3 separate regions of the Homo sapiens genome follow, and all the other regions are linked to region 1. The links come from fine-mapping of genetic effects on gene expression. A gene starts in region 1. Each other region holds a variant in brackets. All regions are shown on one strand. Distances are from middle to middle. Region 1 holds the start of SLC38A4-AS1 (SLC38A4 antisense RNA 1). Region 2 overlaps SLC38A4-AS1 (SLC38A4 antisense RNA 1). Region 3 overlaps SLC38A4-AS1 (SLC38A4 antisense RNA 1).

Region 1 (10,637 bases):
AGGTGCTAACATAACCAACTATGGCTTGCCCCCCACTGAAATGTGTGTGTGTGTGTGTGTGTGTGTGTGTGTCCTGGACTTAACCCTCTTCCAGTAGCAAGTTCAAATTCCAGAACAGTTTGTCCAAGGATCATGTTGGCAGGAATGTGCTTGTCTTGGAAACTTGTGGACCAAAATATGTTCATCCTTAAGAAAAGCACATCCTGCAGATAACAGTGACTGGCCAATCAGTGTTGTCACGTCACAGAACTGTGGGTTCTCATTTTCTTGCCCTCTTTCCAATATCCAGCCCATATTCAGCACTGCTTGTGTAACAAAAGGCAATAAGGAAGAAGTTGTAACAAATCCTAACAGCAAACAGACCAAGACTTGGGGAGTTGCAATCTGGGAAGCTGAGGGTCAATATTTCATAGTGTCATTGATGAAGCCTGTGAATTTACCACAGATTTTACGGTTGTCAGTTCACAAACTTTCTGGTGAAAACAGACTTCTATAATAATAATAATTGGATTGACTAATTTCCATGACAGGACATGAGTAGAATGAAGAGGCAGATGATCTGGGTTCTACCTCCAATCCAGCCACTAATCAGCAATTCAACCAGCAATAAGTCATTTTCCTGTCTGGCCTCAGATGCATTCATCCATAAAAAAAGAACTGTCAGATAATCTCTAAAATCCTTTCCAGTTTACATATATTTTATGACAAAGTTTTTTACCTAACCTCAAATATGTGTGTGTATGCTCATACACACACACACCCACACAGAGAGAGAATGAATCCAGACAATCTATCGAAGATTAAACCAGGCATGAAAATCCAGATGCTGCTGTACACTTTACAGACGATTCTTTAGTTATCATTTCTTCCTCATACAAGAGTGTGAGGGGCTCACTGAGACAGGTCTTGAGTTCCCCTCACTTGTACCTTTTAGTCTCTCTCATTTCCTCTTTTCTTAACCACTGTCACACCAAAAGAGGTACAGTATGGTGCATAAGTTTGCAAAACTATAAAATGATACCATTCTTTGATTCTTCATTCTTCGATGCCATTCTCAACCTTTTGCACTTGGAGAAACATAGCTATTTTCACTTTTAAATGTCATTTATATTAGCATATTGTGAGTTGGTTATTACTTTTAAATACATTGACTATCTTTTAAGTTTTTAGTCTTAATTTCTACTATAAATATCAACACATATAGTCCACATAAACAAAACTCTTTGTGGTCCTCAATACTTTTTAAGACTGCAAGGGGGTCCTGAGACCAAAAGTTTGAGAATTGCTAATGTAGTAGTTAAGAGGACAAACTCCAGATCCAGCTGCCTGAGTTAAAATGTCACTTCTATCACTTAACAGTGGTGTGACATTGAGTACAGTCGCTTAGTCACACAGTTGTTCTGTGCCTCAGTTGGGGATAATAACGATAATAGTACTGACCCCATAGGGTCATCATAAGGCTTAAATGAACTGATATATGCACCATGCTTAGAAGTGTTGTGAGCCATCATTCTCTTTGGCGCTATTCACCTACCTCCATTCCCCGTGGTTTGCTTGGTTTGGTTTGATTTGGTCTGGTCTTACTACTGCTGCCTCTCCGTTTGACTGGCAAAGTGTGACTGGCACTGCTTCACCAGGGGCTAAAGGCATAGCTGACGAGGCTCCTTCATAACCACAGCCACAAGTTCGCACTCCAGTGCTGCAGCACCCAGCTGTACTTTGAATTTGCCCTTCAGAGAGGCTCCATCAGCAAAAGTCAACTGGAAAATCAAAGCAAGCAATGCTAAGTTTTTTAAAAACACGCTATGTCAGATGAATTAGAATGTAAAGTAGAAACTCTAGCCTTCGGAATAAATCAATGAGAGGAAGGAAGTAGAGACAAAATGCAAGCAATTACATTCATTCCTTAAAAGAAAAGGTGGTATCTGCCCAAGCTCCCTCCAATTTGAACTATGTTTTCACAGCCTTCCATCTCCTTTTTAAAATCTCTCTTCAACATCCCAGAGCAGCCTCCTCCCACCTGGCCAAGAACCCTCAGGCCATCAACTTGCTTAAAAAAATATGATGGCCCAGATTCTGATCACGTGCACATGACTGACGGCCATTGGATCTTCCCAGGGAGTACTGAAGTTTTATGAGTATTATGATCATAATCCCCTGCATTTATATTAGTTTTCTTTCTAATCTATATTTTCACATAAATTTTTCTTTAATTCTTGGCACTCAGCATGCTGTTATTCCTATTTAACGGTTTAAAAAACTGAGGCTCAGAGAAGCTAGCAAACTTGTCCTAAGTCCCAAAACTTTGAATCAACGGAACTGAAACTGGAGTATAAATGAAATGGGAAAATTTTTAACGACTGAAGGACTGGGGGAAATGCACACAGCAGGGAGGGGCAGGCATGCTGCGGGGAGGCGGAACTAAGCTATTTTTGTCAGGGGGTTACTTAAGCAAATCTGCTCTACTGTGGAAATAACCTCAACTAACTCCCCCTGAGTTTTACACAGCCTCTTTATTGCCTCCACAGCTCAAAACTATACATTCTCTAATTCTAAGACTTATTTTTATTATTTTTAAATACTAATTTGTTCATACAATGGATATCCAGGTGGTACTGTTCTTAAGAGGATTTTAAAGAAGGTACACCCAGTATGTTTTATATTTAACCTATGGCTGCTTCTCAAGAGTGTTTGTAAATTGAGAACTGTCTGTATTGCATGTGTGATGTCATTAAATATATATTTGGTCTGTCCAAAACTATCTGGCATTTGTCCTTTACCAACATTACTGAGTATTTTAGTTTCTCAATCATGCGAGCTTAAAAAGCACAGCCAAATCTAATGAATGTCAAACTTGTGTAGTGACTCAAGTTGATTTCAGTATGTTTAAACAGAAAAAAAAATAGAACTCACAAAGGATCAACTGGAATGAGTATTCACTTTAAAGGAATGCAAAAAGGAATCCTTTTGAACCATTCATTCTCCTGAATATGTTTAAATGTGCATTAATTTAGGTACAACTGCTAAGGAAAACTGTTTATCATATACGAAATATTTCCTCATTAAAAGTAATGGCAAAAACCGCAATTACTTTTGCACCAACCTAACAGCAGACACTTTGAATATGAGTGTAATGTTCTTTGTATGTAACAATGCTAATGCTAAGCTATCTCAAATATCTTCTTTTACCTGTTTTTTTTCCTTCGGTAACTTATCAGCCCTGTCCAATAACAGTTCCTACAATAATGGAACTATCTGTCAGTGCTGTCCATTTTTGAATGAATTAATAAAATTAATTTTATTTAAGTAGTCACATGTGGCTACTGAGCAATTAAAATGCCCTATTGAAGAACTTAATTGTCAATTTTATTAATTTTAATTCATTCAAATAGCCATGTGGCCAGTGGTTGTGTATTGGACAGAGCAGTTATAAGATCTCCTTCAGCCAAAAAAAAAAAAAAAAAAAAAAAACCTATGATTTTATCATTCTATCATTGTGAGGCCAGAATTAAGGCTGTAGTTATTAAACCTCTGATTATTAATTGGATGCTGAAATACAGTTAGCTAACTGAACACACAATTTTAAAGAGGCTGTTTTTGTTCTTAATAAACATCAAAAAAACTATTATGTGCAAAATAACATGTGGGTAAGTAGGATATACACAGACCAAGATTGAACAGACATTTCCTGACGGGGACATTGCTCTCCCAGTTTCTGCTAAATTCCAATTCAGTACATCCTAACAAGACATGGCTGATCAATTGTGTAAGCTCATGCTTTTAACAAGTATTGCTTAGCTCAATAACTCCCATAGCTCTAGGACAAACAACTGTCCTGAGCCCTGGGGACACGCTGTTGCACTCTGTTGAGCCTGACAGAATGCCTGCTCTTCCAGGCACTTACTCTCCTGGGAAGCACAGCCAGGTGAACAGGCCACGAGAATACACCGTGGTCAGTACCACTACAGGGGCAGACCTTGGGTGCCACACGAACACACAAAAGGAGCTTCTAACCCAGTCTTGGCTGGACAGGGAAGGTTTCAAGTGCAGAAAAGAAGGTTCCAGAAGGAAAAAACCAGTAGTATCTTGCTATCAAATCTATCCATTATTTAGGTTTCTTTGGGAAATTTCCTTTTCATTTGGCATTATGTCATCGTCCTTTCAAGGGTATTCACTTTTTGAATACATTTCAATCGATATATATTTATCGAACCCTGAAGACTAAAAAGCCTCATCGTCATTCTCCTGGAGGATTCACCATTTGCTCGGGGCTAAAGGTGTATGAAGACAAACCTTTCTCCTGAGAAAAAAAATGAGTTCTTAGGTCAAATATTTCAATAATCTACCCTTTAAGAAAAATGTAACACTGCCTTGGAATGCATGATTTCTTCATAAGACTTCCTTTTTACAATTGTGTGTGGCTTTCTACCCAAACTAACTTTAAACATCCCTCCACAATAAAATTCAGGAAGGCCACTTTAATAAAACGAGGGGGAAAATCCCACCAAAATGTAAACTTAATATTTCAACACAATTAAATTTATTAATAAAGAATTTCTATTGCATAGTGAACAAAGCATTGGATTTACCTGACAGTTTGGGGTCAAATTCCAGTTCCTCCTCTTAGAGAAGGAATGGCCTTGGGCGAGTTATCTAACTTCTCCAAGCATCAGTTTCCTCATTTGTAAAAGGTCAATAATGGGGTAAGAATAGCCCCTACCTCAGAGTTGATGAGAGAAATGAATATGCACACATTTACAAAGACCTTAAAGTAGTGCGTACCCTAAGCCTTATATGAAGATTATTATTCTTTCTAATTACAATAATTCTAATTGCAGAAATCTATGCGAAAACAATACACAGTTCTGGCCAAAAGAAGTTAAAACAAATGTGAAAAATAAGCGACATCCAGAAACTTCAGCAGCTCCCTTCTGTCCTATGCCTCAAGGTACCAGAGAGGGAAAAAGACCCCCAGGAGAGGCTGTGAGGAAACCTGAACTGCAAACCCACCACGATGTCTTCCTGGGAAAGGCAAGTTGGTAAAGAAAGATGTGAACTCTATTTCAGGGTAGTATGTTTTTTTCATTTGCTTCCAAGACTTTGATGGAATGACTTGAGAGGAAAAGTTCACAATTACTAGAAAGAACCTAAAAGGACATGAGAGATGAAACCGTTGCAGTATTTTTGAAATAAATGTTTTCCTGCAAGAGCAGAGTCATGGGCGGGGTGTCTGTGTAATATCTACTCAACACAGCCGAAGGGTAAGAGGAAATCTTGGTAAGCCGACTTCCAAGTCTTAATGGGGAACCATACGGAACCAACTGCACGCCAAATCCCACGCTCACCGAAGCTTCAGGGATTTTCTTGTGGGTCTGGGGGTTTAATCTGACAGCTCCTAGAGCCTTCAGGACTTCCCGGGCACAGATAATGGGCCGCGACTGCACCCCCGCGTCCCTCCTTGGGGCGCAGGCTTTCCACAGCTACAGTTCTCCACGTCAGCAGCCACGTACACAAGCGCCGGCAGCTGCCAACAGGGCGTGCCCGCTTCCAACCCTGCACTCTCCCAAGCAGGACATCCCTGCACCGCCCGGCGCGTTCGCGAAAACTCCGCGGGGCCTCGAGGCGTCCCGGGATTAGCCCTGACGCTGTAGGGCTCTCTAGGTTTTCCACGACGCAGGGGAGCGTAACTGGAGCGCACCCGACAGCCTCTCAGCTTGCCCAGGCTCGACTGGATGGGGCTTTGCTGGACCCCCGACCCGACCCCCACACACCCGGGCGGCGGGGCCCAGGTACCTGCCAACGCCTCCGCACCTCATCGTCCCCTCTGCTTCCCCTCCTCCCTCTCCCCGAACCCTTCCCCCCTCCTCCCCGCCTCCTCCCCGCCTCCTCTTCGCCTCCTCCTCCACCTTCTCCTCCCCCCGACCCCTGCTCCCACTCTTGGCTCCAAGTCCGCGCGCGGGCTGGGGAGGCGGTGCCGAATGAATCACCGTCACGTGGGTCGCGGGCGCGCAGAGGCGGGCTGCGCCCGGGCGGCTCTGGCGCTCGGAGCGTTAGTGGAAAATTTCCGGAGATCTACTGGGGCTGCGCGCCGCAGGCCCCGCCCGCCGCCTCCCCGCTCCTTCGTATCCCCACCTCCTTTTCCCCCTCCCTCCTCCTTTTCTCTCTTCCCCCGCCGTTTTCCGGTCGCAGCCGGGCCCCGACATTGCGGAGGTTCCTTTCTCTCCGGGGAGCGGCGCTGCGCACGCCCCGCCCGCTGCAGCGCCCCAGGCTGGCGCCGCCAGACCCCTTTGCCCTGGGGCCGCCAGCCCTCGCTTCCTTCGCGCGGCTCCAAGCCGCCACGCGGCCTTGCCCCCGACCTTGCGTGTAGCCTGCTGGTATCCTGAGAGGCCAGGAGCGGCGTCCTGGCGCCTCCGCCTTCGCCTCTGGGGCGCCGCACCCCCGCCACCTCCGTTCCGCATTGAGTGAGACCCCCCACATCTCCGGGCGGAATGTGAGACAAAGGGAGAAGACGGTGACGATGGGCGTCTTGTCTTCTCATTTAGAATTACTGCACCGCCGTTTAAACAAAGCACATGCAAGGCCAATTGTGTTTTACCCACTCCCACTTAACCACTGAGAAAATAAGCTATTTTCTCTATCCCATAACATTCTCCACTTCGTTTTCCCAACCACGAACAAAATTTATTCCTGAGACAGCAACTTTGAGGATTTCGTTGACCTCATCCATGTAGAAGTGACAAATGGTTACACAACAAAATTGTTTCACTCAAAGGGGGTTGTTGTGTACGTGGTTCACCTCAATAAAACACACATTTAACTGTTTCAGCAACTGTTTAGCCCTGGACTGTCGCCCGGGTTAATGTCGCTGAATGGGGTGGGGGGTTGAAAAGTGGCATTAGCGCCACGTGTCCCAAGACGAAGTGACATGGAACCGGAGGCAGGTGCCTTAATCAGTCACGAAGTGCCAACGATGTCAGTCAAAACAGTTGGGAGTTTTATTGAGTAAAGATCTCAGAACCAAGCCCATATATTAAATGGTTCCCATCTAAGAACCAGAATTGCAGGTGTGTTAATTTTAATAAATCGTTATTTCAGTATCTTAGCCCTGGGCAAAGAAAGATCCGGAAACTGACTGAAGGCCAGGAATGTAGGTTCATCGTGGCCTACGAGTGCTTTGGGTAGCACACCTTCTTTCAGTCACTGTCATTTCTCTTTAGACAAGAAGACCCCTAACAAGTATTAAAATAAAGGTATTTTTTAATGATCCTGTTTTGGAAAATTGTAAGGATCTGAAATTTTTAATTTTTTAAAACAATGGAGCACTTCAATAAAACTTCTATTTTCTTTACTAAGAATATACACAGCTTGTTTTTTAGCTTAATTCTTGATTGTTGCTGTGACCTTACCACATTCTGAATAACCTTAAGCATGTATATGAGAATCGTATCTGTGATTTTGCTTTCACATTTCACTTTCCAAGACACTTATTGGTAATTAGCAGGTGTCAGTTTACCTAGCCAAAGAACCATTGTCTATAAATCCTTCATCTCTCTGCCATTGTTTTCTTTCACATTCATTGGCATATACTACACCTAGCAAAATAGACCATTCCAGGGTCAAATGAAAAGGCCAACAGGTAAGTATCACAAGAAGGTCATTAGTCAAGCCGTTATTTCCCCTCTTTTATTTGGGAAGGAGATGGGAGAAACAGAGTTCTGATACTAGGTCCCTGGAAAGTTCTTCAGTCTTGACAGAATTGGGTATGTTTGTACTAAAGTATCTGTAAAACTAAATTTTTTTAAATTTTTTGTTGTTGTTTTGAGACGGAGTGTTGCTCTTGTCGCCCAGGCTGCGGTGCAATGACGCGATCTTGGCTCACTGCAACCTCCGCCTCCCAGGTTCAAGCAATTCTCCTGCCTTGGCCTCCCAAATAGCTGCGATTACAGGCGCCTGCCAGCACACCCAGCTAATTTTTGTATTTTTACTAGAGACGGGGTTTCACCATGTTGGCCAGGCTGGTCTCAAACTCCTGACCTCAGGTGATCCGCCTGCCTCGACCTCCCAAAGTGCTGGGATTACAGACATGAGCCATCGCGCCCAGCCATATTTCTAAATTTTTTTAAGACTGAGTTTCTGTGGGCCCCTTAATTTTCTTTTTCTTGCTGAAAAATGAGGTATGCATTTACAAAATACTGATGCTTGCAAATATATGGATTTACAATATAATATATTTTTTAGGCATTACTATGTTTTCCAGTCCTGGCCAGTGGGATCTGAGACAACAATAACAGCATTTCCAGGAAATGTTATCTCTCAAAATAAAATTAACTCACAAAATGACGCTCCTTTCTTTTGCAATGGATGTGGTCCTGTCTGCCTATGACCCCTAAAACCACTGCAGCCAACATGTGACCATGATGGGAGAGATCCCCAGCATGTTGAAGAAAGCAAAGTGAAAATATAATGAGCTCTTTGTCTTGGAGGGAGGTATCAGGGCCAAGAATTAACCCCAGAACTGTGCTCTCTACATACTTCTTATTATGTGAGATAGTGTCATTATTTAAGCCACTTTCAATTGCATATTGTGTTTATTGCCATAAAATGTTTTCTGGCTGGGCACAGTGGCTCATGCCTATAATCCCAGCACTTTGAGAAGCTGAGGTGGTGGATTGCTTGAGCCCAGGAGTTTGAGATCAGCCTGGGCAACTTGGCTGAAACCTGTCTCTACAAAAAATTAGCCTAGCCAGACGTGGTGGCCTGTGCCTATAGTCCCAGCTACCCAGGAGACTGAGGTGGGAGAATCACCTGAACCTGGGCTCTCTGATCACACTGCTGCATTCCAGCCTGGGCGACAGAGTGAGACCCTGTCTCAAAGTAAAATAAAAATAAATAAATAAATAAATAAATAAATAAATAAATAAATAAAATAAAATAATAAAATAAAAATATTCTTGCTGCTGACAACTTCTCTGTGGTAGCCAGCCTCCAAAATGGCCCCCAGTGATGCTTACCTCCTGGTATGCACTCCCTTGTGTAGTCCCCTTCTATGTTGAATCAGGGCTTGCCTTTGTGACTGATAGAATATGGTAGAAATGATAAAGTGTGACTTCCAAGGCTAGTTCATAAAGGCATTGCAGCTTCTGCCTTGCTCTTTCTTGCTAACTTGCTCTGGGATAAGCCAGCTGCCATGTCATGAAGACATTCAGTCAGGGTTGTGCAGACACCTTCTTGGAGAGGAAGCAACCAGCCAGCACCAACTTACCAACATGTGAATGACCTTGGAAGATCTTCCAGCCCCAGTCATGCCATCAGATGACTAGAGCCCTCTCACAGCTGACTGCAACCTCATTAAAGACTTAAAGCCAGAACACCCAACAGAGCTGCTCTTGAATTCCTGATTCATAGACACTTCGAGAGATAATAAATTATTGTTGCTTTCAGACACTAAGTCTTGGAATAATTTGTTACATAGCAATTGATATCTAATAGAGTATCTGTCAACACCAGAAAAACATGCCAAAGTCAGCAAAGCACTCCCAGAGTCCGTACTGTTGCTTTAGACTTGAGAGCTATCTTACAAGATTGAATACAACCGTTCATTTATCAAGCACTTTCTAAATATGATCCCAAGAATAATATATACAAAATGATAAAAAGAAAAAAAGAGTTGAGACAAGAATTTCCTCAGGCACCTGGAAAGATTAATATTAAAAATATGGAAATGCAACAACATGGATGAACCTCAAGAACATTATGCTAAGTGGAAAAAAGTCAGGCACAGAAAGACAAATCACATAATCTTATTTGTATGTGGAACCGGAAACACTCAAACTCATAGAAGTAAAGAATAGAATGATGGTTACCAAAGACTGAGGGAGTGGAGGGGAGGAGGTTTGGGGAAATGTTGGTCAAAAGATAACAAAATTTCAGTTAGATAGGAGGAATGAGTTCAAGAGCTCTATTGTACAACATGGTGACTATAGTTAATAACAATGTATTGTATTTTGAAAATTGCTAAGAAAATAGGTTTTAACTGTTCTCACCACAAAAAATCAGTATGTGAGGTAATGCCTATGTTATTTGGCTCGATTTAACCATTCCACAGTGTATACATATTTCAAAACATCGTGTTGTACATGATAGATACAATTTTTATTAGCCAATTTTAAACATTTAATTATTCTCCAGTCTTCACTATTTGAGGAAAAAAATTAAGTTAAATACATAAGAAGCTGGGCGCAGTGGCTCGTGCCTGTAATCCAGCACTTTGGGAGGCCAAGGCAGGCAGATCACGAGGTCAGGAGATTGAGACCATCCTGGCTAACACAGTGAAACCCCGTCTCTACTCAAAATACAAAAAATTAGCCGGGCGTGGTGGCGGTCACTTGTAGTGCCAGATACTCAGGAGGCTGAGGCAGGAGAACAGTGTGAACCTGGGAAGCAGAGCTTGCAGTGAGCCGAGATCGCGCCACTGCACTCCAGCCTGGGCGACAGAGTGAGACTCCGTCTCTTAAAAGAAAGAAAGAAAAAAAAAAAGCAGTAAGAAAATATGGAAGTCATTGGAATAAGGGGAAGGGTGTGGTTTGAAGGGAGATGGAGGAAAGAAAAAGTAATTTCACTATCTCTCCACAATGCCA
Region 2 (10,637 bases), 53 kb before region 1:
AATGTCCAAGGAAAGAGACATCCTGAATCACCTTCTGAACCTGTGCCATGAATCTGCTGTAAAACTCAGTATCAGTAGTTCTAGAACCTCACATAATTGATCTTGTGACTTGAAATTGAATCACTTTCAAGGTTTCTTCCAAAGTGGTTTTGCCCTCCTGAACCATACTCTATTACAGCTACACTTATCCAGTCAGCTGAAGAAAAAGAAAATGATAATTCTCTGGTGTTCCTGCCTTTGTTGAGCAGCCTTTAAAGTCACTCTGAGCCCATTTCACCCTCAAGAGCAGAGGCACGCCAGAGGCAAACTCTCCCAGCCTGGAAAAAAAAAAAAAACACTTAGGTAAAATGCAGAGGAAAAGGAGATCTTACTGCTCGTGAGCCAGACTTAGGGATTCAGTCTTTCATACTCCAGGGGCTCTGAGTCACTGTGCTGTGGAAGTGATCTGAGTTATATAAATCCTTGTGCACATCACCAGAGAGAGACTCTATGTCAGTGTGCAATATTAGTGTGCAAAGTATAGTAAAATCTGTGAAGCCAGACCCCACTAGTTCAAAACTAGGGATCATAAAACCTTATACCTGGCACTATCTCCTGTTACAGATGAGTAAACAGGCTCATAGAAGTTGAGTGACTTGCCGGAAACCACATGGGTATTGAGTAGCAGGACAGTAGTTTGAAGGTAGTTCTCCAGAATTTAAGTCCAGTGCTCTGTTTTTAAAGAATATTTCCTGTAAATGCAGGGAAAGCTGAAATTTAACTTTATTCTAAGAAAAATATCACTTATAATCTAAAAAAGCCTAACTGAGGATATAGGTGAGGGTAAGCAGAAAGAGATATGTTTTTCCTACTTAAAAGAGATTACTGGGCTTGAGGAAGAAGTAGGAGGTAAGAATTAGAGGTCCACTCTTGAATTTATCAGCTGGGTAATTGAGGGGAAGTTAGTTGACTTTCTAGTTGTGAATGTCCAGTTTTTGACCTATAAAATGGACCTACTCACAGGGTTATTACAATTATTAAATGAAAGAGTACAGATAAACTAGCTGAAACTTAGCAGGTGCTCAATAAATGTTGCTACTCTTCCTTGAAACAGCTATAAATTAACACATTATTCTTATCCATTCAGTAGAGAGCTCTCCCAAGGACTCTTACTTCATGTTTTTTGGCCTTTTATTGGGTCTACTTATTGGCTTAATTGTTTATTGTCTGCTTCCTCCTACTAGAAGGTAAGCTAAAAGATAGCAGGCCTTTTTCTATCCAGTTCCACTCTTTATTCTCAGTTCGTAGGACAGGACTTGACCGATAGTGACAATTAGAAAAATTTGCCAGGCCAGGCACGATGGCTCATGCCTGCAATCTCAGCACTTTGGAAGGATGAAGCAGGCGGATTGCTTAAGTTCAGGAGTTCAAGACCAGCCTGGGCAACATGGCGAAACCCTGTCTCTACAAAAAATACAAAAATTAGCTGGGCTTGGTGGCACATGCCTGTTAGTCTCAGCTACTTGGGAGGTTGAGGCAGGAGGATCATCTGAGTCTGGGAGGTGGAAGTTGCAGTGAGCCAAGATCACACCACTGTACTCCAGCCTGGATGACAGAGCCAGACCCTGCTTCAAAAAGAAAAAAAAGAAAGAAAGAGAGGAGAAAGAAAATAAAAAAATAAAGAGAGAGAGGGAGGGAGGGAGGGAGGGGGGGGAAGGGAGGGAGGGAGGGAAGGAAGGAAGGAAGGAAGGAGGCAGGGAGGGAGGGAGGGAGGGAAGGAGGGAGGGAGGGAAGGAAGGGAGGGGAAAGAAAGAAAGAGAAAAGGAAAGAAAGAAAGAAAGAAAGAAAGAAAGAAAGAAAGAAAGAAAGAAAGGAAAGAGGAAAAAGAAAGAAAGAGAGAGAAAAAAGGAAGAGAAAGCAAGCAAGCTTTGCCAAGTAACATAAAAGAATTAACAGCTTCATAGGGAGAAGTGAACCCACTTCCCCCACCATAATCCTTTTAAGAAAAGAAGATTTCACTAATTCTTTTATCCTAAATTTTTCCTGTGTACAGAACATGGTTTTATGCATATTTTAACTTATGTATGTATATGCATATATATCCAATATCAAAATAAAGTATATACCCTTTATGAGGTAGTTGTTGTCACTGAAGAAAGAATAGATACTTGGGGAGAAACAAAGAGAAGCTCAATATTAATCTACAAATGTCTTACTTCTTTTACATTAAAAATGATAGACAAAGTCAAACAAGAGCTAATTTAATCAGAGGGGTAGAAACTGTGTGGGAAAATGGCATTGATACAGAAGAAATAGAAGCTGACCCTGTCCTAACAAATTTATGAAGTAAATAGTCCTATTCCAAGTTTACAAATTGGGGAATTGAGGCTTAGCAACTTGTCTAAGATCAAGTAGGCAGCAAGCAGCTGGACCAGGTGGGGAAGTGAGGACAGGGGTTTAGCCATTTAGACCCAACTCATGCCTGGAGGACTCAGCTTGATTTCCCAGCAGATCAGATTACCATTAGCAGAATTCCCAGTGTATCTGCCTCTGGAAAAACCTATATGATCATCATTATTAGAGCAGTGTCATTCCCCAGAGGAGTGAGATCGCTGAATGTCCTTTAGACAAATGATGTATTTGTGACTCATTGCCCTATTATAAATAAAAACACTGTGTTAGCCAATTTTCACCCAGTTATGGTCATTAATAACCCCAAAAAATCTCACTGGCTTTTTAACAACCAAGGTTTACTTCGCATTCACATTTCATGTGTTGGCCATGACTGTGCTCCACATGGCTTTTTCTTTCAGGATCCAGGCTTGAAGAAAGAACTCCTCCGGGGAACATGCTGAACTTGTGGCAGGGGGAAAGCAGAGTGCCAACTGCCATGGCCCTTAAAGCATTTGCCTGGAACTTCTACTCAGACATGGCTTACATCACGTCCTTTCACTCCATTGGCCAAAGCAAGTCACATGGCCAAGTGAGAAGGATAGATAGAGTCCTTCCTCAGGGAATTACTATAAATCGTATGGCTACCTTGCTACCAGCAGGCATTATACAACCTTTAAAGGGTACAGTGAGTAGTTGTGAAAAATACTGTAATACAATATTCCATGGATACCATGTTCTCTGCTTTTGTAATCAACAGGTAGGGTTTCTGTTTTCGTTTCCAACAAACATACTAACACTTGCTTTTTATCATTTCCATAAATTATTTGTTTCAGAGGCAACAGGCTGCTGGAGAAAGTATTTAAATATTCCCTGAAGTTCCCAGAAACTTTCCTTTTCTGGGGGAAATGCAACAAATACTAAACATTCATGACCCATTCTAATATTGTTCTTCCAAAATTATCATGGCCACACCAGGCTGATTTAAATACATTATTGTAGACCCTTAGATTTTTGCTATGTAGTAATACTTCAAAGGAAACAAACAGCATAAATGCCCAGAGTGGGTTCATTTTGTTAAACAATGGTTTCGAATTTTCCCATTGTGGGTATTACAGTCTAAGTAGAAGGAAATTCAATTAGAAGTGTCTGTGCTTTATCTAATGCTCAGCTGTCACCATCTTGAAATTCTTCATAGTTTTTGAACAAATGATCCACATTTTCATTTCGCACTGGACTCCGCAAATTATATAGACAGTCTGGCTTAGAATAGATATTCCCTCTTCTGGAACATTTCCCAATACTTCCGGCGAAACCAGGTACCTCTCCTAGGTGCTCACATAAGGCCCTGTGACTATGGCCCTTGACGCCCTTTACTGAAATTTATAGACTGTCTTCCCGTCTGGCCCGTGTGTTCCTTGAAAGCAGGAACAATGACTAATTCAGCATTGTATTTTCAGCATATACTATGCAACAAATATTTGATGAATAAATTAGTATCAGACATTAGTGTACCTTTGTAAAATTCCCAGTTTGTGAAACTTTTTCTCTGGCAGCTGAAAAACTGCTCATTGCTGCTCTGGTGTTTTTCCTGTGCTCTTTGCCAGGCACTGCCAAGTAAACTGACAGCAGCAGAGTGCCATTTTCCTACACCGTCAGGCTGCTGTGACTTTCCCTAGAGGGACCTGAGCCTTCAGCTGGAGTCTCACATCACTTGGATCTGTCCCCCAGATTGACTTTTTTCCTCCCATACAATATAGAAAATCACATACAGTATTTCACTTATGTTTAATACTTGAAATCTGTGGCTACTGCCAAAAGCATAGGACAAATGCAAATTACCATAGTCCAAAGGAAAAACTAGAAATTTACAAAGAATGCATTTTTTCACATCCCACACAGTAATTAATGGGTCTATTTTCAATTAATAAGGTATTTCTGATGCACGAGAACTAAGTTCAAAATAAATTTCAGCAAACCATAAAAGGATCTACATCTCTTTATATATACTTATCTTTGAATAAAAATAAACTGGAGCATGCGTTACTCATGTAAAAACAAATCTGGACAGTTAACCAATAGCCAAGTTGGGGAAAATATCTGTAAAATCAGCACTCTGTAGACAGACGTATGCAGTACGGTAAAGCACACAGACTTGAAGTACAAACATCTGTGAGTTCAAATCCTGACTGCTATTTACTGGCTGTGTGATCTTGGGTCATTTATTGAAACCTCTCTGAGCCAGTTTCCTCATTTGAAAACTGTGGATAATAATGTCTGTCACCTCATAGGTCTGTTACAGAGATTAAGAAGAAGATATATATGCAGAGCACGTAGCACAGAGCCTGAAACTCAGAAAGCCTCAACAAGTCATATTCACACCCTTCCAGCAGCACTAATGCCCTAATTCCCTCACATTCCCTCCTCTGCCTCTGTCCCATTCACATTCTATTCCTCTCTCCCCCTTCTCCAGATTAATCTCTAGTTACAGATTTGGTTAATCCCCAATGCACAAAAGTCAATAAATTATCTTTTTAAAGGAATATTCTCAAGCCTTTGGTTTTTGTGGATTTATTTCTTCAGTAATGGAAAATTTTCTGTACTGTTTTTTGAAAATATATGAATAAACATACATCAAGGATGCCCTCTCTGACATCAGTAAGTAACTCAGAGATGTCAAATATGTAAAAATGAAGACTTGCTTTGCTTTACCGGAAAAGAAATGGTATCACCAATAACTTTCTGATAAGAGGTGCATTGTATACAACATGAACCTCTTAGATCATCTGAAGGGAACTGTTTTCTATGACATTTTTCCTCTCTAGTTACCTCAACATTCCTCATAAATAATATTTGACAGAAAAAAAATAACTCATAGTACAGCTATAAAAAAAATCTGTCTTCAAATATGCAC[A/G]TCTAATGTTTGCTACTAGGTTTAATTTTCTATGATTTCATCATCCAATAACTCAGGGAGAAAAATGCCTTAACATATCAATTACCAGGTATCTGCCTTGATCAAAATAGCCAGATAGTTACCAAAATCTTAATCTCACATAGAGTTACGTGGATAAGTAAAGTAATGACAGTATTTAACACCACCACAATTTGCTATGAATGAAATTTCCATATTATCAACAAACATCAATTGAGGAATCACTCTATATAGACTAGAATATTGTGCTATAGTGACACAGGTACCAGAATCTGAGACCACAAAAGCCTAGCCAGCCACTTTTTTACTCCACTCTGGAAAGTCTAAAGACTGAAGAGTAGAATCGTCCTTTAGAATGAAGGAGACTGAGAATTAAAGTCAGCAGAGCAGGATTTGAATTGTGGTACAAGCCGTCTGGTCAGACAGGCCTTGAACAAATCATTTAATATCTCTCTGAGCCCTTAATTTTCTCACTTAAAACAGAAACAAATATTATATCTCTTCTTTATTTCAAGAGGTTGGGATGCTTGAATGGAACTATGCATAGGAAAGAATTTTATGAAATATTATGTGAATATGAAGTTGTTTTGTTTGAAATGCTGAAACGAACTGAAGTCCTGTGTCACATTCAAACGTTTGTTAGAGTCACAGGTCCAGCCCATATTCAAGGGGAGGGGATTAGACAAGGACATGGATGCCAGGAAGAGGGGATCAGTGGCAGCAACCTCAGAGGCTGCTACCACATCCATTTTCAAAACAGCAAATTAAGTTAGAAAAGCAGTTGCTTTCTCATTCACTATTAAAATGTCATTTTTACCTTGAAGAGACGTATTAAGCATATTTGTTTTTCTGAAAATATTTGCATAATCCTGGCAGCCACTAGTCATCACAGGATAAGTTAGACAACTTAGGAGCCTTGTATTTTGTAAATGAAAAATGTATAAGTCAACTTTCAGTTGGATAACTTTTAAGCCTTTGGGATAGGTCCCTATAGATGTGCTCACTGTGGAACATATATAAACTATGATTGTGTTGTAAAATTGTATTTAATGTGTGTATCTATCTATCTATATATTTCACATATTACATAATTTATTGTAAATAACCTGAAATATATACCAAAATGTTAATAGTAGTTATCTTTAGATGGTAGAATTACGGGTTATTTTTTCATTTTACTTTATTCTTGTTAGTTTTCTCTTTTTTAGTTGGTGCTGTTGTCTTATGTTTTTGCTTTTGAAATGAAATTGTATTATTTCTGATCATAAGAATATAAAACATTGTAGACAGTATAAAAAGACATAAATTAAAAAGTGAAAATCTCTCACAGTCTCACCACTGGAAGATACCACTCTTAACATTTTGATGCTATCCTTCCAAACTTATTTCTACACATCCCCCTACACACACACACACACACACACACACACACAAACTATAAAAAGAGGATCATACATGCATTTTTTTTAACTAACAGACTTTATTTCTTAGATCAGTTTTAGGACTACAGAAACATTAACCAGAAGGTGTAGAGAGTTCCTATATATTCCCATTCTGTTCACCACCAATTTCCCCTATTATTAACAACTTGCTTTGGTGTGGTACATTTACTACAATTGATAAACTAATATTGATACATTACTACCTAAAATGTATATTAAGATTCATTCCTCTATGGGTTTTGCCAAATGTATGATGTCAGGTATCCACCATTACAGCAACATGCAGAATAGTTTCATTGCCCTAAAAATTCTCTGCACTCCACTTATCTATCCCTCCCTGACTTCCCTCCAATCCCTGCCAATCACAGATCTTTTTACTGTCTCCATGGTTTTGCCCCTCCCAGAATGTCATATACTTGTAGTTATAGAGTATGTAGCCTTTTAGAATGCCAAATGCTATTTTTTCACCTAGCAATATGCATGTAGGATTCTTCAGTGTTTTTTCATGGCTTAATAGCTCATTTATTTTTATAACTGAATAATGTTCCATTATCTGGATATACTTCAGTTTGTTTTATCCTCATTTACTTGAGGACATCTTGGTTGCTTCCAATTTTTGACAACTATGAATAAAGCTACTGCAAACATTTATGTACAGGTTTTTGTGTGAAGTTAAGTTTGAGTAAATACCTAGGAGTACAATTGCTGGATCATATGATAAGAGGATGCTTAGTTTTGTAAGAAAGTGTCAAACTGTCTTCCAAAATGGCTGTAGTAATCTGCCTTTTGATAAACAATTTATTGTGGGCATCTTCCCATATAAATAAATAATAACTGCATAGCATTCCATAGCATTCCACATTGCATAGCATTCTACTGTAGCTTATTTAACCATTTCTCTATTAATGGACATCAAGATCATTTCCAGTTATTTACTATTGCAAACAATGCTGAGATAAACATTTTTGTACATACATTCTTATCTTTGAACACTTGTGCAATTATATCCTTTTAGGGAAAAAAATCCAAGGAAATTTAAAAGGCATAAACATATTCAGTTTTAATGAAAGGCTGTACAAATTCACACTCCCATTAGCAGTAAATGAGAATGTTGTATATTCCCATTGCCTCCCATAACAATCCTCTTAGGGCTTACCAATCCAATGGGTAAAACATTGCATATCAATGCAATTTCAGCTGACCTTTCCTTTTTACCCAAAAGGTTTAACATCTCTTCCCTTTTTTTAGTTATTTGCATTTCTTTCCTTGTGAACTGTGTTCATAGGCTTTTTACTTTTGCTATTGAGTATGCAAAAATATGTTGCTTTTTAAAGCTTTCTATATACCTTAGTCTGCTCTCTAACAGGCAGTTTATTAGAATATATACTATCAATTTAATAGTTCCTAAGAGCAAGGAGAAAGAGACATCACCACATTAAATGTATACACTAACTTCAGAAGGAGGGCAGGGACTAGAATAAGGAAATACAGTATTTCTGTGATATGTATTTTTTTAATTTAACTTTTATGGGTGGTGATTTTAATTTTTTATTTTGTTTTATTTTTGCCACCTCAAACTTTTATATTGTCAAATCTGTGGACCATTCTGTTCATTTTTTGAAAGAGAGTGGGGACTAGAATAAGGAAATATAGTATTTCTGTAATATGTATTTTTTTAACTTTTATTGGTGGTGATTTTAATTTTTTATTTATTTTGTTTTATTTTTGCCACCTCAAACTTTTATATGGTCTAATCTGTGGACCATTCTGTTCATTTTCTGGCTTTATTATGCTTTAAGAGGCCTTCTCTAGTCAAAGGCTGTATAAAAATATATACTTAAACATTCTTCAGCTGTTTAATGTGTGTGGTTTAACATGAAAACTTTTTATCCATTTGTAATTTTTGTCTGGATAAGGTGAGATCCCAACTTACCTTTTTCCCCCAAAATGGCTAGCAAGTTGTTCCAGCACTCTTTAAAAACAGTCCATTTTCTTGGCCACTTTATCACATGCTAAATCTTCACATATATTTGAGCCAATTTCTGAACTCAATATTTTGTTCTATTTTTCTGTGTCTCTTTGAAGTTACGACCACACTGTTTTAATTACTGTAGCTTTTAATATCGATAGCCACATGACTCACCTTCTCCAGGTCTTTACTCAAATACCACCTTGTCTGTGAGATCTTGCCTGAGCACCCTATTCACAGCTGCCACTTCCGTCTACTTCCATCCCCTGTCCAAACCCTGGAACTCTACAGCCCCTTCTTTGCTTTATTCTTCTCCTTAACATTTTGCACCATCTGACATCCTATCTATTTTACTTATTCATTTGCATATTGTTTATATCTCCAAATGAGATGATAAGTTCCATGACAACAGAGATTTTTGTCTATTTTTGTCTATTGGTGCCTAGAACAGTGGCTAGAACACCGCCAAGCACAGAGTAGATCCCCAAACATATTTATTGAATGAATCCATGTCTGGTGGAGAAAAACATTCTACATATAACCACTATCCTTCTTTCTGAGAATTCACCAACTCAATTCACATACCAGTTTTCCATGAAATATAGGATTAAAGATCCTATGAATTTCATATTAAGAATATTCTTAATAATTTTGTGATATTTTGTTACCACGAATTCATTTACACAACAAATGTTTATGGTGTCTACTATGTGTCAGACCCTGTTATAGGAGCTGGGGATGCAGCTGTGAAAAAAAAATGGTTTCTGTCCTCATGCAGTGTATGTTCTAGTGAGAATAAATTTCTTTTTCCTTTATATTTTATTATTGGTAATGTTTGGTATATAAGAAAGCTATTGAGTTTCATATATTTTAACTTTTAACTTGTCTTTTTACTAAATTTTTTATTGTTTCAAAAAGTATTACAATTGATTTTGTAGTTTTACTAAATAGACAATTGTATCACCTACTGAGAGTAATAATTTTGTCCTTTCCTTCCCAAAAGCACATACTTCTAGTTGATTTTCCCCTTTTATCCATTAGCACAATGAAGCATTTCATTATAATCTCTGTATTTACCCACACTTGCATTTCTGGAAATTAAATCCATTTTTAAGGTCTGAAAGAAAGTCAGAAAATTTTTTTTAATCTTTAGGCCGGTATAATATATCAGAAGTTTTAATTCAGGTGAATCAAAATATCTGATAGGATACAATTTACAACAGTTGCATGCAACTGATGCAAAAGTCATTCTCAGGAAATATTAATTTTTCTCTCATTCCTGGCAGTTTGTTGATATAAAATTGAAAAAAAAAAAGGAGAAGGATGAAGCTGATTTATGTTTAGGAGGCTAAGTAATTCATTGAATCTCCTACTGCTGAATCTAATTTAAAAATATATATAACCATATTTCTCCATTGAAAATTAGAAAACATTAAATCTACTTATTTATTTTATATTACTTTCTATTTGCCAATTATCTCTGCAAACATTGAAGTGCTAAATACTTCGATTGTATACGCAAGCGTACTGAAATAAGGCTGCATAAGTAAAGTTTTACACCACGTCTGCAAACTAAAATTTCCTGGGGTGTTACATTTTTCCTAATAAAATAAAACAGAGGTTAAGAAATATGATTCAGTGGCCATTTCTACAGCTGAAGTATATGAGACTGCAGCCCTAGGTGTCTTGCCCACGCTCATCTAGCAGACGGCAGAGCCTAGACTCAAACTCTGGTTTTCTGCTACACATCAAGTATTCCTTCTACAGTGCTCTTCCTTTCACTCAGCATTATCTACATAATTAGAAACACTTGAATTTCTTTCCCCATCTGCCTAGAAATTTTCCCCAATTATTACCTTTGCATATTATTTTGGTAGAAAATTATCTCTTATAAAACTCACATGTAGCTTTCAATTTTATGGCA
Region 3 (10,637 bases), 100 kb before region 1:
CCCCAGTTCACAAAATGCTAAATGAAGTGGCCGATTGCTGGGAAATACTGCAGGGAACTAGGGATCAGAAACAGATTGTGGGGAACCAGAGGGGATGGCAAGTCTTCAAATTACTCTTAAGAATCAAAGGTCTAACAGAAGTAAACCTCATGATCAAATACAACACAGATATAAGGTTAGGGACCACATGAAATTTTCTTGCTCTATAGTACTTAAAATAATTTTTTTTTAAAGTAAGAAAGAGAGGCACTTTGAAGTTCCCAAAATGGAATGGCTCTTAAGTCAAAGGTTGAGCAGACTTTTAATAAACTGGTAATATAGCTATAGATACAGATATAAATTCACAATTTTAAATGACACTTTTGCCTACATCATCCACTTTTGCATACAAAAAGGTGAGGTCCCTCCATGTCAGAAGCACCCCACGAGCAAACACAAGGACTGGGAATTATCAGACAGTCATATGAACTAGTACATAATTTTCCATGCACACAACAAAACTTTAGTGAGTAACTACTGTGTTCTAAGTGTGAAGTATAGGTGATACAAGGATTTTGAGGCACAGATGTCTGCCTTCAAGTGTAACACAGTCTGTAGGAAAGGCTGCCATATGTGGCTCATATATGTCAGATGGTATTAGGAGATAAAGGTGGGAGGCTATGCCAGCATCATGTTAAGAGGGTCCTTAAAAACAGGCTAAGGGTTAGTATTTAATTCAGTGACAATAGAGGATCATTAAAGTTGTTAGGCTAAGGAGTAATATCATCTGGATTGAGTATACAGTTCATTTAAAGTAAAAATATAGAATTCGGCAGGGCTTGGTGGCTCACGCCTATAATCCCAGCACTTTGGGAGTCCAAGGCAGGCGGATCATGAGGTCAGGAGTTCAAGACCAGCCTGGCCAATATGGTGAAACCCTGTCTCTACTAAAAATACAAAAATTAGCCAGGCATAGTGGTGCATGCCTGTAGTCCCAGCTACTTGGGAGACTGAGGCACGAGAATCGCTTGAACCTGGGAGGCGGAGGTTGCAGTGAGCTGAGATCATGCCACTGCACTCCAGCCTGGGTGACAGAGCAAGACTCCATCTCAAAAAAAAAAAAGAAATATATGTGTGTGTGTGTGTGTGTGTGTGTGTGTGTGTGTGTGTGTGTGTGTGTAGAGAGAGAGAGAGAGACAATTCATTCAGAGCAAAATCGAATAAGGAAAAAGACTGGTTTCGAGACAACTGCAAAGCACCCAGGCAAGAGGTAAGAGGAAATATGGTAAGAAGTAAAAGGAAGTATGGTAGCACTCAAGAGAATTAATGAAAAAAGAGGAACTCAACTGAAATTGACAGTGTAGAACACTGACTTGTTTCAGAGGAAAAGAAAATATTTGGTATGGGCCATGCTGAGTTTGAGATGCCATTGGTGTCTAGCCATCAGTTGGATATTCGGGTCTGAGGTACTCGGGTCCTGGCAAGAAAGATACATATGAGTACTATCCTCATGGGAGTGATGGTTAAGGCCACAGGATTGAACAAGATAGCTGAGGTAGCAAGTGTAGGTCTAGAAGCAGGAAGAAGAAAACATTCCGGAGGACACGTACATGTATAGAGAAGTAGAAAGAGAAGTATGTAAAGAGAAAGGAGAACTGAGAAAAGAATGCCAGGGAAGCAGAGAGGGGGATGCTTAAATGAGAGAAGCAACAATCAAATGCTAAGAAGAAGCCAGAGACGCATAGCCTGAGATGAGCACTTGGATCCAGTGCATAGGTCAACAGTTGCCTCTGAAAAAGACACTTTAGTGGGGCTGAGAATAGAAAAGTCAGCATTCAAGATAGTGAAAAATGAGTAGGTACACAGCACAGAAATGGACTTTAGGGAGTTTGATAGAGGATTATAGAATGAAGATGGAAATGACAAGGGAAGAATTGATGGGGAAAGGTCAAGGGAATCAGGCTGGCAGTTAGAGGGGTTAACCTGACAAAGAAAAAGGACACATACTCCTCAGAAGCAAATTAGAAAGAAGAAAGCATAGGAAGGGGCAGTGAAAATACAAAGATTCTCTCCCTAGACCCTGTCACCCATGCCTATGGGCACAATTACCGCCTCTCCTGGAATTACCCACAAATGTCTGTCTGTCTGCTGCCCTAACCTCTTCCTGAGCTCCTAAGCTATATATAAAACTACCTACTAGAAAACACGTGGATACCTTCAAGGCTCCTCAACTTCAACCTGCCCAAATCAAATTCATGACCTTTTCTTCCAAACAGTGTCATCCTGTACTGTTCCCTGCCCGATAAATGATATCATTATCCATCAAAACTGCCAAAGTTCAAAAGTCAGGACTTGCTTCTACACCTCTATTGCTCTCAACTTCACCCCCAACCAAAGGGCTTTTAATTTGTCTCCTCAAATCTGCTTTTGCCCCCTTCTAAGCTCTGCACTGCAGCTAGAGTGACCTTTTCAAAACTCAACTCTGATCATGGTCACTCCTGCTTAGATCCCTGCAGTGACTTCCTCTTGGGCAGGGCCACAGTCTGACTTGACTGTTCAGGCAATATGTGGCCTGGCTCTGCCCACCTCCCTGCCTCACCCCACATTCTCCCCCACCCACATGCCCTGGCTAGTGTGTCTTCTCTGTGCTTCCTCACATAATTCCAGTTCTCTTCCACCTCTGGGCTCTGCACATGCTGTTCCACCTGCCTGGTACTTCCTTCCCACCATCCTTTCCACCTGGTTAACTTCTACTTCAGGGAGAATAGAAGACAGCATTATATCATGGTGATTAGGACCCCAGGCTTTGGAATCAAACTGAGTTCCAAAACCCACTCCTCTACTCACCCACTGGGGGGTCCTAAACAAGTTATATACTGTATCTAAGCCTAAGTTTCTCACCTGTATGTTAACATGAGTCCATACTTCACAGAGATTATTCATAGAAAGCACTAAAATCTGAGACTGGCACATAATGCCCACTTCGTAAATGTCTGCAATTTTTTGTTAATCTTTTTTCCAGCCATGGGTCAATCATCACTTCATGAAGAAGCCTCTGCCCAGGTCACCACCCCTTCCTCTGCACCCGCAGTCTCCTTTTTTGCACCCAACACAGATTTACTTCTGCACTTACGTATGAGATTTTTAGAATACACCTGTCTTCTCCACCAGAAGGCTCATTGACAGCAGGATTCGCCTGCTTTGCTCGTGCAGAGAGCCCAGCCTCTAGCACAATACCTGACACAGAGTAGACACTCTACCAGTACTTCCTCAATGAAGGAATGAATGAATGAGCAAACCACAGTAGCCCAGCTGTGGTTAGAGTGGAAGTAAGCATATCCAGCTTGTCCTGTAAGCAACAGCCCAGTATTTGGTCATTTGGCCATTGCGTCCTTGCATTAGTGGGGGCCTGATGAGCAGTTTGTCATCTCATCTATGAATGCCAGTAAATCATTATCAGCAATATTTATTTTTTAAAAACTAGGCGAGCCTGAGGTAAAATTCATATTTTTGCAGGCCTCGTTGGCCAAGGACATTCGGTCTTCCCTGGCTGAGGCTGATGAAGATGATGACAGCAGAGATGATAATGTTGTAATTAACAAAGCTTATGAATATTAGCACATTAAACTCTAGAACACTTTGGTCTAATAAATGGGACATACAGAACAGAAGCTCCTGAAGGTCATCTCATATGCCAAGTGAGAAATAGGGAGAGAGCCCTGTCACTTGCTCTCTTTGGCGCATCTTAATTTCTGTGTTGTAGATACATACACACACGCCTCACCAGGTCCCTGTGCCTGGATGTGACCTTCCATGGTCTTCTGACTATTAACTGTGACATATGAAGTTCATGAGTCAGACCCCATAGTCTGCATCCCTGCTTATCACTACGTGACCTTCCCTCCCCTCAGGTCTCTTCCAAAGAAGACCACTGAGTTGGCTCACACTTTATTTTAGGGAATGTTTTCTGACTACTTCTCTTGGTGTCTGTTAATGGGCAAATATCAAATCCATGGGAAATTCCTACACAGTTCTCAACAAATATGAGGAAAAGCAAACGAAAGATCCCTATAACTCTTTATACATCGCCTTTACAGCATGTAAACCCTTTGATTAACATCTCCTGGCCGTGTGCAGTGGCTCACACCTGTAATCACAGCACTTTGAAAGGCTGAGGTGGGAGGATCACTTGAGCCCAGGAGTTTGAGACCAGCTTGAGCAACATAGTGAGACCAATATCAATCGAGAAAAATGACGAGACAAGTCTCAATCATTTTAGGAGGTTTATTTGCCACAGTTAAGGATGTATGCCCGGGAGACAGGTCTATGCCTTTCTCTGAAGATGATTCTGAGGGCTCCAAATTTAAAGGGGAAAGGGCAGGATATTCAGAAGTACACAATTTTCATGTAAGAGCGGGGGTAGGGAAAAATAGTCGTTCATGCCTTTGTCCGGCTCAGTGACTCTGCATTTTTTTATATAAGGTGATATAGACAAATGGGGCAGAGGAAAAATGCAGGGTATCTGTATTTTACATAAGATAACATAGACAAAATGGGGCAGGAGAACAATCAGATATGCCTTTGTGTCTGGTGGGCAGGGAGATGACTGCACCTGTAAGGATAAGCTATAAATTTACATTGCAATGGCGAAATTGTGAAATTTTAACAGAAACACCTTAAAAGATCTTGAAGCTCACTAGGAATTTCCTTGTGGGCAAAATATGGCAGAGATGTATAGCTTTTCATCTTGTAGCCATCTTATTTAGGAAGCAAAAAGGTGGAAGCAGGTTGCATCATCCAGTTCTCGGCCCAGCTTTTCCCTTTGGCTTAATGAGTTTA[G/C]GGTCCCAAGATTTCATTTCCTTTCACACCCCCATCTCTACAAAAAAAAATAAAAATAAAAATTAGCCAGGCCTGTACTAATAGCTAAGAGTACTAGCACGCACTTGCAGTCCTAGCTATTCAGGAGGCTGAGGTGGGAGGGTCCCTGGAGCCCAGGAGTTCAAAGCTGCAGTGAGCCATGATCACACCACTGCACTCCACCCTGGGTGAAAGAGCATGACCCTGTCTCTTAAAAAAAAAGAAAAAACCCTCCCTTTGCCTCTAATGACAAAACGGTCTTTCCCTTGGTGGAATAGCTTGGGAGCTTTGGGAAGACTGAATGCACAGTAGGTTCTGCATTGTCATTAGAATCTATGCTAAAGTTATCAATGGCCTTTATTTTATTGAGTACCTAGTAAATGTAGCAAACCAAAGGCCCGAGATGCATTTACTTTACTTGCCATTAAATTAGGCAGTAGCTTCAATGACATAAGGGTAAAATCTAATGAGCTTTGTACTCTTGTTAGAACAGGTAAGGAGAATTGAGGTCTCAGCATTCACAGATGATGTTATGGCCCTTTGTGTCCTAGGACTGTTTATCTTAGGAGCTCTGTTTGACCCCTGGCAGACTGTTGTCTTTAGCTGAAACAGTAAAGTGTGATTCACCACAATATGGTAATGTTGAGAAATCCAAGGAAAACCTTTCATTTCCAGAACTTAGTGACCCTTTTTGAAGAAATCTATTATTGTCTAGCAATTTTATTACAAAAGCACATTAGGGTTTAAAAATGTGAAGTGGGTGTGGAAAAAAAAGGCTTATGTAACATTAGACGCAAAAAAAAGATTATAAAGTCTTGTCTATGCTAAGATTGTAACTATGTGAAAATTAGATAACATATTGACAGTAACTGGAAGGAAACATTAAAACAGCTGATTTTAGAATGGCAAGATAAGAGACTTTTTTCTCTTTTCTTTTTTTCTTGGTTGATTTCTGTTATTGTTGTTATAGTATTATTTGTACAATACAAGATTGTCAGCTAAACATGTATATTTTGCTTAAAATTATAATTCACTTATACTACAGACATTAAAAAATTATCCTCCACCTTAAAATCAAATATAGAAAATACGGAGCTTTGCTACCTTATCTTTAAAAACTATTATTTATTCTGTGAAATAAAAAAGGGAACAACTGCTAGCACAGTTCTTAAAACTAGCAGAAAACAATTTATCTCCTTCAGCATCACTGAAAACAGACTAAAAATTCTTATTTCTTTAATGAGAAATGGTAGAACAAAATAACTTATTATTAAATGTTCTTTCTCATTATCTAGTAGGCCAGAGAACATCTCTGAAAAAAAAACCACCATACATTTGAGAAATCTTTACTGGGGTTAAGCCAGAAAAGACTTCACCTTATATTTGCCTGGTGACTACCAGTGCTTAAAGACAGAGAATGCTGGCTGGTTTCTAACAACCAGAATTAAATCCCTAAATTATAAGTCTGAAAATTCAACTCAGAAAATAACCACACAGTTCCCCTGTTTCTTAGCCCTCTATTCAGTACTTAAACCCACAGGGACCTGTTGCCTATAAACAAAACTGAATATAGAATTAGGATAAATCTCACACGCAATGGGCATTTCCTGCTGTCCAGAAATCTCCATTTACTTTTTAAATAAAAGGACTCCTATCCATAAGAATTGGCTGCCTTTTCTTTTTGGTGTGTCATTAAAACTCAGGTCTTTCTTTGTATACCTTCCATGCAATTCAATCCAACAAAAATGCATCCAGTTGAGTGGCTTCCCAGACCTGTTAGGTCAACAAGCTCTACCAGGAGGCTATGGAAACACCTATTGGCCCTTGAACACTGTGTCTCATCCATTGGTTAGCATAGCTCATGCTGGACATCTAAACAGTTCAATCAGGAATTGCTGGACTGCGTGTTCCTAACCTTCCTCTTTGCATGACTGGTTATATGTGGTGAGAGTTATCAGTGGCAAAAAAAAGTAAGTCAAAGCTAAAATAATAAGCAATCTTCAGAGCAACAAATGAACTACCCATTATTAGTAAATTGACTGCCATGCTAAAAAGAGTGAATTCCATTCTAAGAGCAATGGGGACCAATGGGGAATGAATTTGAAAAGGAAGAGGATAATGTAACTTGGGTTTAGGATAAGAACTAAACCCAAAGGCAAGATGAATATAGATTACAGAGGACAGAAATAGGAATTGGGGAACTAATAAATTTCCCCAATTGGGTCAGTTGGAATTGGAATTGTTGAACTGACCCAAACCAAGGCAATGAGGGTAAGAATAGAAATGGGATAGATAATACTTTAAATGGATAAAAGGATGCAACAAATTTGATGCAGATTAATGAAGAAAAGCACAGTGTGAAGACAGTTAAGAAGACATTAGTGTTCCTAGCCTGGATTACTGAGTCTGAGTGATGCCATTAATATAATTGAGGAACTAAGGGGAAAAAATTGGTTTAGGGAAGAAGACAATGAGTTTGATTTTGGATATAATAGGTTGAAAGTGTCTTAGGGACATCCATGGGGAATGGCCCAGCAGACAATTAAGATATGCCAGGGCTAGAAAAGAACATTTAACAGTACAGACTTTGAAATTAAATCCTGGTTCTGCCACTTAGATTAAGTGGCCTTGTATGAGATATTTAAACTTCTGAACCTTCTATTTCTTTATCTAAAAAAATGAAGATAATTACATTGTAGAATTTTGTGAGCATTAAATAAGAAACGTGTGGAAAGCACTTACAATGTCTGACACATAATTAAGTACTAAAAATAAAAAATGATCTTCCATTGAACCACTGCAATAATCTCTTCCTATTCTGTTTCATACTTTGCCTCCTTCAGTCCACCTCTGCATGGCAATCGAAGAGATCTTGTCATAACAAAGATGAACTCCCCATCACTTCTCTGCTTAAAAATCCTCTAAGGTATCCCTCTGAACCATGGTCTGTAAGATCTGGCATTTCTATTCTTTGGCCCTTGACCATGCTAGTCTCATTCTACCCTCAGGGCCTTTGCCCTTGCTGTTCTCTCTGTCTGAAATGGTCTCCTCTAGATTTTTCAAGGTTGGCTTTTTTCATCCTTTTGCTGTTAGCTCATATGATACCAACTAATGGAAGCTTTTTGGTGATTGTTTCTTCATCTATCCCAGGTACCTTCTATCCTGTTATTCTGTTTTTATTTTATCTATAGAACATTACTATTTGAAATGAAAAATTTAAATATGTTTACGTGATGTTTTCTGTTCCCTCTGTTCAATAAGAATATCAGTTCCTTAACAGCTTGTCTGTCTTATTTCCTGCTCTATCCTCAGTACCTGGCATAGAGTAGTTTCTCCATAGTCATTGAATGAATGAATGAATGAATGCAAATATATGGAAGAATTGTGGACCCTTAAATATAAAGTGTGCATTTCACTTCCAGTAAGATGAAATAGTCTGATTCAGAAACATAAACTCATGATGTTGAGCTACTGTAATCTGGATGTCCCAATGAGGTAAGCCAATTAACCTCTCTGGCCCCCATTGTCCTTCTCACTGTAAAAGAATGAACAATTGCCACTCTCTTGCCCAAGACGGATGCAGTGAAGAATACATGAGATGAAATCTGGCATATGTCTGGAGTTTTACAAGAGGAAGACATTCTATTTAACTGTTCAACCCATCATAAAGATGACTGGCACAGGCCAAAATGGCATAATCAAAATCCCTAAAGTCACATCAAATCACTAGACTATGAATCCCCAAAATGTCCTGAAACAATAGTCTATCAGAATTTCCACTGAGCTACAATGATAATGTAAATCCCAGGATCACAATTCACTGTGGTAGTTCCTGAAATATTATGAAAAACAAGGCCACTCCCCAAATGGATTAGTAATCACAAAGAGAATGCAAAATGCCTCCTGACAAAGCATGATCAACACCTCAATTTCCAGACTCCTCGTGTCCCTCTCTCTGTGGACACCATCAATCAATGTCCCTTTGGTACACAGGAGCCCACTGCTGGAGCATTCGGTCAGCACCTACTAGGAGGCTTACTCTCAGAAAAGCTTTTTGACATACATCCAAACAAACTGAAGAAAATATTGAAGTCTTGAGCTCCATTTCAGGCCCAGCAAATGGAAGCTGGCCTTATAGGTGAACAGATAACGGCTCAGCTCAGGATGACTCTGACTTAAGCAACATCCCTCTCTGGTTACCCACCTTCTGTGAAGGCTCTATGAGAACAAAGAGATCCAGAAAGTTCATCATACCTGGTATAGAAATTAAAAGAATGAGTGTTTCACTTAGGTAGCCCCAGGTTATTTTGATTTTGTTGTTTAGCAGTTACATAACTTTGGGCAAGTTATTCTAAACTTTCAGGGGCTTCAGATTTTAATTTGTAATGTGAGGATAATACTGCCGGTCTTTAATTGGTTGTTTTAAGGATGAAAGAGATAGAATAAAATGTTAAGCATGCTCAACGAACACCAACTATTCATATGAACCAATAGCTAATAATAATCAATTATCATTAATACCTGAATCCAAGTTATTTCTCTTTAATTCATCCAGCAAATATTAATTGGGCATCTGCTTGATGACAGGATTTGTGTTAGAAGTTGGGGATGCACAAATGAACATGGTAAACTGATTCCTATCTTTGTGCATATTTGTAAATAGGTAATTATGGTATGGCATAATAAATGTTACCATGGGAAGAGTTCAGAGTGCACTGAGAGCAACCGGATGGAAAATCAAACATGGCCCAGGGAGTCAGGAAGGCTTCTTGGAAGAAGTGATGCTTAAGCTACGGATCAAGGAAGTCATCCAAAAGGTTGGGAGGATGGAGTAAAGAAAATCCTATGCAGAAGAAATACTATTTGCAGATAACTGAAGAATAGAGAGCAAGGCATTCTCAAGTTGCAGAAAATAGGTTTGCGTATGGCACAAAGTCTGGTAAAAAGGGGTTTTGCAAGTTCTTGTTAAAAAAGTTTTTACTTTAATCTGAGAACTACCTGAAACATGGTTAGATTCAAGCCAAAGAGTGGTTTGGATGTATTTATGTTTTAGAATAACTCTGGCTGCAGCGTAAAAAAAAATAGACTAAGCAAAGAAACCACTATGAGTCTATGAATTAAACAGATATCCTACAAGGATGTAGACCAGTGGACATATTCTACAGATATCTAGAAGGGACAATGACAATGACAGGACTTTGCAATTGATAGGAAGGTAGAATGAGGGAGAGAAAGGAGTGGAAAATGAACATCAGGTTAAATGGTAGTGCCACTCACTGAAATAGGAAGCACAGAAGAGGAACAACCTTTGAATGTTCAATACAGGATAAGCTGAGTTTGAAATGCCCACAGAGCTCTCAGGTGGAATATTCAGCAATAAGGTGATTAATCAGGCCCAATGATATGGTTCAGCTGTGTCCTCACCCAAACCCCATCTTGAATTATAATTCCCCTAATCCCCATGTGTCATGGGAGGGACTTGGTGGGAGGTAATTGAATCATGGGGGCAGTTACCCCCATGCTGCTGTTCTCATGATAGTGAGTGAGTTTGCACAAGATCTGATGGTTTTATAAGGGGCTTTTCCCTCTTTGCTCAGCACTTTTTTTTTTTTTAGACAGAGTCTCACTCTGTCACCCAGGCTGAAGAGTGCAGTGGCATGATCTCTGATCACTGCAACCTCCAGCTTCCGGATTCAAGTGATTCTCCTGCCTCAGCCACCCGAGTAGCTGGGATTACAGGTACCCACCACCATACCTTGCTAATTTTTGTATTTTTAGTAGAGATGGGGTTTTGCCAAGTT

Evidence for each region. PIP is the estimated chance that this variant, and not a neighbour inherited with it, causes the effect.
Region 2: its variant is fine-mapped to the expression of SLC38A4-AS1 in whole blood (TOPMed, PIP above 0.99).
Region 3: its variant is fine-mapped to the expression of SLC38A4-AS1 in whole blood (INTERVAL, PIP above 0.99).

The regions. Positions count from the first base shown.
Region 1 is chr12:46,378,870-46,389,506 of GRCh38, reverse strand. It overlaps SLC38A4-AS1 (SLC38A4 antisense RNA 1), which reads right to left and starts at 5,831. Exons shown (of 4, transcript NR_125380.1): 1 at 5,812-5,831; 2 at 1,535-1,760. RefSeq lists enhancers at 2,765-3,266, 5,960-6,467 and silencers at 5,826-5,895, 6,046-6,405.
Region 2 is chr12:46,432,292-46,442,928 of GRCh38, reverse strand. All of the region lies in intron 2 of SLC38A4-AS1 (SLC38A4 antisense RNA 1), which reads right to left. The region is part of intron 1 of LOC124902923 (a long non-coding RNA gene); the gene reads left to right. Among named protein-coding and RNA genes, the nearest start is that of SLC38A4-AS1, 54 kb to the right of the region's middle. The variant A/G (reference allele first, on the strand shown) is at 5,285.
Region 3 is chr12:46,478,676-46,489,312 of GRCh38, reverse strand. The region is part of intron 3 of SLC38A4-AS1 (SLC38A4 antisense RNA 1); the gene reads right to left. The region is part of intron 1 of LOC124902923 (a long non-coding RNA gene); the gene reads left to right. Among named protein-coding and RNA genes, the nearest start is that of SLC38A4-AS1, 100 kb to the right of the region's middle. The variant G/C (reference allele first, on the strand shown) is at 4,819.